Linked DNA regions of Homo sapiens. The protein of the gene in region 1 interacts with the protein of each later gene in a biochemical or structural test. Each region holds a gene or a part of one and is shown on either strand. Other genes may lie near its edges.

Evidence for each region.
Region 2: the proteins of GPSM2 (region 1) and GNAI3 form a complex in vitro, tested with the Homo sapiens proteins (one study listed by BioGRID).

What each region holds. Positions count from the first base shown.
Region 1 is NC_000001.11:108,883,194-108,887,019, forward strand, and holds part of GPSM2 (G-protein-signaling modulator 2), read left to right. Parts: intron 1-2,081; 5' UTR 2,082-2,329; coding exon 2,330-2,385; intron 2,386-3,826. UniProt on the Homo sapiens protein: Plays an important role in mitotic spindle pole organization via its interaction with NUMA1. Required for cortical dynein-dynactin complex recruitment during metaphase. Plays a role in metaphase spindle orientation.
Region 2 is NC_000001.11:109,589,954-109,593,779, forward strand, and holds part of GNAI3 (guanine nucleotide-binding protein G(i) subunit alpha-3), read left to right. Parts: intron 1-2,089; coding exon 2,090-2,280; 3' UTR 2,281-2,302; intron 2,303-2,391; 3' UTR 2,392-3,826. UniProt on the Homo sapiens protein: Heterotrimeric guanine nucleotide-binding proteins (G proteins) function as transducers downstream of G protein-coupled receptors (GPCRs) in numerous signaling cascades.

The DNA.
Region 1 (3,826 bases):
TCTTGGAAACTTCATCAGTATTCCCAAGGCTGTTTCTTTCTACCTTCCCTCCTTTCACCTTCTGCTCTGTTCCCTATTAACTTCTAGCTGTACTTAATTAACAGAGCAGTGAGTATTCATTAGTCTGGTTTATGATATAGCTGAAATACTTAAAAGGATGTTATATAGAAGAGGAATTAGGCTTTATTGTATATGGCAGCAGAAGGAAGAAGTAGAACAAATGGGTAGAAATGGAAGAATTGCTCAAAGTATGGAACGATTTTCTTACAGGAATATTCAAAATTAAGATTAGCTGCTTTATGACCTATGTAGGAATGCTATAGTAAGATAGTGGACTAACTGACCTCTAGGATTGTTTATAACACTGAGATTCCAGGACTTTATGATTGTATATCTACCAATTTATCTCATATATGTATATGTATATCCTTCTTTGTCTTTCTCAACTGTTATCTCAGAGGTTATAGTTTATGTCTGATATGCTGTAGCTCTCTCTAATGTATCGGTATGGATTCATTTTTATTTAAATATTCTCAGTCTTTATCACTGAAGATTTTACCTTTATTCCTCTCTTTTTCTTTCTCACCCTCCTATTAGATATATTATAGAGCTGCTCATTTTGTCCTCCTTTTCTCTGAACTTCTCTTTATTATTTTTCATCTGCTTATTCTTTCTTTAGCTGCTTAACTAGTACATTGAGGGTTTGTTGTTGTTGTTGTTGTTGTTTTGGTGGGGGCAGACAGAGTTGCACTGTGTCGCCTGGGCTGGAGCGCAGTGGCATAATCTTGGCTCACTGCAACCTCCGCCTCCCGGGTTCAGGCTCACTGCAACCTCCACCTCCCGGGTTCAAGTGATTCTCATGCCTCAGCCTCCTGAGTAGCTGGGATTACAGGCTTGCATCACCACACCTGGCTAACTTTTGTATTTTTAGTAGAGACAGGGTTTCACCGTGTTGGCTAGGCTGGTCTTGAACTCCTGGCCTCAAGTGATCACCTGTGTCTGCCTCCCAAAGTGCTGGGATTACAGGCATGAGCCATTGCACCTGGCCCTAACTAGTACATTGAGTTATTAATATCAGTGTTCATGGTAGTTTTTTGTTTCATTTTGTTTTGGGGCAGGGTCTTGCTCTGTCAACCAGGCTGGAGTGCAGTGGCATGAATATTAATACTGTTAGTAACAGCAATCCAAAAAACTATAATCCAAATGTCCATCAACAGCAGAATGAAAAATACATTTGGTATACAATGGAATATACATGCAAGTTGTAGCTATGCACAACAATTGAGAAAAATCTCAGAAACAACGTTCAGCAAAATCATATAAAACTAAATGGTATCTTATTTAGGACTATACTGACATTCGTGTTAAAGTTGTAAAGACAAGCAAAGGAATAAGGAACAAAATACAGTTTAGAAATCACCTTAGAGGGAAAAGGAAGGAGATGGGTTAGGTTGGACTACCCAGGAGACTTTAAAGGCAGGTAATGTTCTTATTTTAGACTGAATGGTGTTATATAAATGTTTGTTGTGTCATTCTTTTTACCATATACATATTTCCCAAATGTCTTTTGTACCTACCCAATATTAATAAAAAACATTTTAAAGACCTTAAAGAGTTTAAGTAGAATATATTTTGAAAGCAAATGAATCCAACTATAACCGAAGTATCAGTGTGATATCTTCTTTGAAGAAATAAATTTACTGAGTTTGGAGTTGACTATTTCAAATAATTATTGAATTTTCATTTGATTTGTTAATAGTAGTTTTTAAAAGTTTGAAGCAGCAATTTTGTTTTTAGATGCTAATATGATACATACTGTTCTTTTTTGTTTATAGCAGAAAATATTACATAAAAGTATTAAATTTCAAACATATTTTAAAAATTACAGTTCTCAAATCTCATCTATTCCCACCCCTATTTAGAAGCTCCATGATGACAGTTAAGCCCTGTGCTATCTTCTGTATTGATTGACATGACAGCAGTCTGCAGAGTTAGCTTGTGATTATGTACAGCTCAGGGTTACTGTAGGTTGTTCTTTGAAAATAGGACTTCAAGCAAAGCATCTTGTATTCCTTTTGCAGAAATGTTGCTGAAGTGCTGCTGAAAGGGCCAGAGATGCAAGGATTTGGGATACATTTTGAACCTTTAAGCTGTCTGACATTGACCTCCTTTCATTATTAATAAAGAAGAATCAGGAGCTTAGGATGTATTAACACCAACTCATTAATATACTAACCGGACAATGTTCTACAAACAATTCTACATTGTAAAGGACTGGATTGGCACAAAATAAAATAATTTTATTTTATTCAGCTTATAATATGACTCGATGGAGGAAAATTTGATAAGCATGAGAGAAGACCATTCTTTTCATGTTCGTTACAGGTAAGACTATTGCTGTCTTAATGGATGACTTTTAATCCTTATTTTAAAGTGTTTTTAACTCTGATGACCATTTCAAGTTTCAGTTGAAAATACTCAAATATACCAGCCATAGTATTGTCTGTAGACAATATTTTCTTTTTGTTGTAAGTTTTCCTTTCTGTAAGAAAATGATAGTAGAGACCAATTATGTACTATGGTTTGTTTAATGTTCTCTGGAAGAGTTTATGAATAATTTCTTTATAATTTGTAACTTTTTATGTAATGCAAATATGTAAATGAAATATGTTTGAAAATCTTTGGGGCTAAAAGGTGGATTTTTTAAAAATGTGGTCAGCTGAAGGACCAAACCTTTGCATTGTAATTTAATGTGATCTTTTAGACATGAACTTTTTATTTTTGATTTATTTTTATTTTTTGTAGTGTATTGTTTTGATTCCCTTCTCATTTCCTTTTTTTGTATATTTTTTATTTTATTAATTTTACTTTTTCTATATTATCAGAGATGGGAGTCTCACTATATTGCCCAGGCAAGTCTCAAACTCCTGGGCTCAAGCAATCCTCCTGCCTCAGCCTCCAGAGTAGCAGGAACTACAGGTGTGTGCCACTGCACCTGGCTTTTTATTTTATCTTTAAAGGAAATTTTATTTCACAACCATTATTACTGTTTTAAATATGTACCTAATCCACATTAATATAAATACATTATTATTAAAATACAAACAAGCGCTGTTCAAAAGAAATGTCATTTTTAAGCTTAATGTCTAGTGACATTTTGTGTTGTTTTGCTGATTTAATACTTAAGACCACATTTTTACATGAAGTAGTGGTTTGGTAATCCCTAATTTACTCCAGAAAGCAAGTCAGGCTGAGGAAAGGCACCCACATGCATTCTCTCACAAGCTTCACGGTCCCTAGGGAAATGGCCTGGCTCCTCTAGGACTTACAGTGTTCCCTTGGATGCCCAAATGGATTGTCTACATTCCTGGTAGAAGGTTGCAGATTGTAAGGACCAGTGTTCCCACCTTTGTTCTGCATCCACAAGTGTCTTTCACAAATACAACACACTCCCTTTGGCTACACCTTATATATAATAGGTTATGCACATGTATGTGTGTTGGTGGGGGTGGATGCTTCCCACTGATCTAGATCAGGATCCAAATCAGACATACACATCAGGAAAGGAGGGAAGATAGCCAGGAAGTGATAGCTGGGCAGAATGAAGGTACAGAATGGGCAGGTCTTCCTGATTTTTCAGAAGAGCCCAGGAAATCTGAAAATCTGAAGAGTGTGTGTGTGTGTGTTTTTGTGTTTTTGTTTTTTTTTTTTTGGAGACAGTCTCACTCTGACGCCCAGGCTGGAGTGCAGTGGCACGAGTTTGGCTCACTGTAACCTCCGCCTCCCATGTTAAAGCGATTCTCTTGTCTCAGCTTCCCGAGTAGCT
Region 2 (3,826 bases), 710 kb from region 1:
ATATCTGTTATGTTAATTTTCCTCAATAATTTTTTTAAAAGAGTATAGGTAGAGCAATTGATTTTTGAGCAAGAAGTAAGACACCTCTAAGACCAGAAGTACAAATAAGTGCAGATATGTAACATTTTGAGTGAGGTGGTAGGCCAAAAAGTTGAGATGTAGTTTAATCCTCATGGCCTCTGTTTTATCAAGGAAGTTGGAAATGTGGTTACCTGTTCAGAGTAAAGAACAGAGGGAGGTGAGAATAAGGTGAGTTTATAGAAAGCAACCAAGTTTTAGGATTGGGGGAGAGAGATGTAAGACAAGTAAAATAATTGGCATTAATGTTGAAGGCCCAGCTTAGAGTCTTCACACAAAGCAAAGAGCCTTTAATATCATTTCCATTTTCTTTGTTGTTGTTAACTTCCAAGCCTATCCTCCATTGTCTTCATTCTGTGTACAGATTCTTACGGTCCTTATTTGCCAGGTATTATTATCTGTTCCTAGCAGACAAAATTCACTTTTCACTCATCTGCCTCCTTTAATTTACAGAGGTTGTTTTCCAGATTTTAAGAACCTGCTTCAAGCACCTACAAAGCTGTTTTCCTTCAGTTCTTTAAATATTTTAATTAATATTCTTTTCCTTTCCTTTTTTTTTTTTGAGACAGTGTCTTGCTCTGTCTCCCAGACAGAAATGCAGTGGCATGATCTCGGCTCACTGCAACCTCCACCTCCCAGATTCAAGTGCTTCTTGTGCCTCAGCTCTACTACAGGTGCCCACCACCAGGCCTAGCTAATGATTTTTTGATTTTTAGTAGAGATGTGGTTTCACTAAGTTAGCCAGGCTGGTGTTGAACTCCTGACCTCAAGCGATCCACCTGCTGCGGCCCCCAAAGTGCAGGGATTACAGATGTGAGCCACCGCACCCAGCTCCTTTTTTCTTAAGCTCCGTTTTGTTACCTGGTCTTCTTTATATCTTTGTTATTGATATTTTTGTTATGCTTCACGTTACTGAAAATAGCCTGTAGTTTATTGGAATAATGAATTGTCTTTGTTGCGTTTCCCTGGCTTTATAGCCAGTTTCTAAGGCTACTCTAAAGGTTCTATAAGTAGACAAGATGGTGTAAAAAGCAGGTGATTTAAGGGTATTAATTACAAATATTGTTGAGACAGGCTTTGCTTTTGGTTCCTGTCACCTTTCTTTTTGTAAAAAATAATAGCTTCATTGAGATATAATTGGGAAACCCTAAAATTCACTCTTTTAAAGTGTATTGCTTTTCCTTATTTAAATTATTACCTTAAGGCTTTGAAGCTAAACCTCTTTAAAACTGTGGAATGATTTTGAAAAGAACAATTTACCTTGTTGAATTCCTTTTTTTTTTGTTTTAATACAAACAATCCCATAGCGTTTATTGCCATCTTTTAGTAACATAAGGGTAATCAAAACACTATGAATGAATGTTCATATTGGAAAAAGGACATCTAAAAGCAAACTGTATCCTTCTCAACAATTTCTCACTTCATTGATCCTTTCTAGTTGGAGACACTTTGTAGCAGAGTAATATTATCTCCTTTTAGCATGATCCGACCCAGTTGTTTTAAAAAATATGGAACGCTTCACGAATTTGCGTGTCATCCTTGCGCGGGGACTGTGCTAATCTTCTCTGTATTGTTCCAATTTTAGTACATGTGCTACCAAAGCAAGCACTACCCTGTTGAATTTTTATTCCAAGATCACTCCAAGGAACACAGCCTCTCTCAGACCTTTTAAGCAGTTGTGTTCCCTAGAAATGCACCTTCCTACTTTCCTAGTTTCCTTTTATACTTTCTAGATTTTTTTAGCTGAAAAGTCTAAATGAAAAGGTAAAGAGAAATTTAACGTTATGTTTTCCTCAATCTTTGTGTTTGATGATTTTATTTTGTTACCATGAGAGTCCACTCTCACGAAGAACCTAATTATAGAAACACCTAATGATTATAGAAATAGAGAATTCTACTCATATTTAATTGGGTTATGTTCCCTCTCCATAAGTAAATGGTAATGGTCTGACTTAGTTGAGTTCAGGCAGCTGTTACAATTTGAACTGAGAGTACTGGGTGTCCGTTTTAGGTTCCAATACATATGAAGAGGCAGCTGCCTATATTCAATGCCAGTTTGAAGATCTGAACAGAAGAAAAGATACCAAGGAGATCTATACTCACTTCACCTGTGCCACAGACACGAAGAATGTGCAGTTTGTTTTTGATGCTGTTACAGATGTCATCATTAAAAACAACTTAAAGGAATGTGGACTTTATTGAGAAGCATGGATGTTAGTGAAAGGTAAAGTTTCATACAAGGTAGTTATAGTGCTACAGTGATGTCTCTTGGTTTTTAAACTTTTTCTAATTAAGAATATTCTTCTCTTCTAGTTACTACAGTGTGGAGTGTTGAGACCAGACACCTTTTGCTGTCTCATGGGGCAGCTACAAGCATGAACGGGACCAGGGAATGGCAGCAGCATGCAGAATCTTAGCACTCTTTAGCACAATATTTTGTATTAGGGAACTTTTAATTGACATGAGATGCTAAAGTCAGACATTGGAATTGGAAGAACTATAAAGTGTGATTCGATCGTCAAGACATCACTTGGATTTCTTAATCTTAAATGCTTATGGAAGATGTGAAGTTGAGGTGCTGCATTCTAGAACTTCAATATGTAGCTTACTCTTTTTTTCCCCCCTTCTTAAACCACCAGTGGTTCATTTTTAAGGTTTTTTCATCAAGAGAAGAATAACTTTACTAAATTTTATTTCTTTATTTGCAAAAGAATCTTTATTAAAACAAACAATCTTAACTATGCACATGATGTGACCAGATCATCTTGAAAATATTCCTCTTTAGTAGGAACTCTTTGTTTTTAACTCTTGGTATGGTCAGAATATAATACTTCCATAATTACTTATAATTCTTTCCGGTTACTGGGGCTATAAATACAACTTTTTAAATGAAATTTATGTTATTATCCTGCTCAAAGTACCATTATGGTTTCCATATGGTAATTACATTGGAAAGTTCTGCAATAAGATTCTAGTTCTCTCTTTTCTTTAAGCTTATGGTTGAAGGTTAACCTTGTTTGTGCAGATTACCAAATTACTGCTGATGTAGTATGATAAAGTCAGCTTCTTGGATACAGACACACCCAGGGCAGCTGCCAATCAGAAATGCAAATTGCTAAATTCCAAACAGAACCAGTGACTTTGCTGCTACATATTTACTAAATTGACCACTTTGATTCTTGCTTGTTTGTCTCAGTTATAGGGAGTTTTGTACATGGTGCCTCTTGTTTTCCATCTTCATGGCCTTTTCTGTTGAGAAACATCTAAAGTGTATTAACAGTGCATGCTTTTACTTTGTAAATGTGGTGCCAAATCCCTGTTTGCCATCGTTTTTACTGTACCGATGTTAACTGTAGTAATCCTTAGCCAGTATGTTCTTTTGCTGAAACTGTTGCATTTTGGGACTTTTTTCCACTTTGTCATGTGTACATTTTTAATCTGTTATAGTTGGCGGCAGTATTAAAATGGTGAGTAAAGAGCCCAGGTTTGCTCCTGTTTGTAACTAGTCTTTTCTGGAAATACTGTCTTCTGTTTCCTTTTGCCTTTGCAGAATGTGCTTTAGCCTTTGTCTGAGAATGGGTTTAGGTAGAAGGGTTTCCTGAAAGTCTAGTCTTTTGGTGTAATAGTATTGTTGAACCTTAGGTTTTATGTTATATCTGCATATGAGTGATATGTGATCATGATTCATTTTGCAGATTTACATTTTGCTTGTGTGGAAAGTTACGTTCACTTCAACCTACAGACCCTT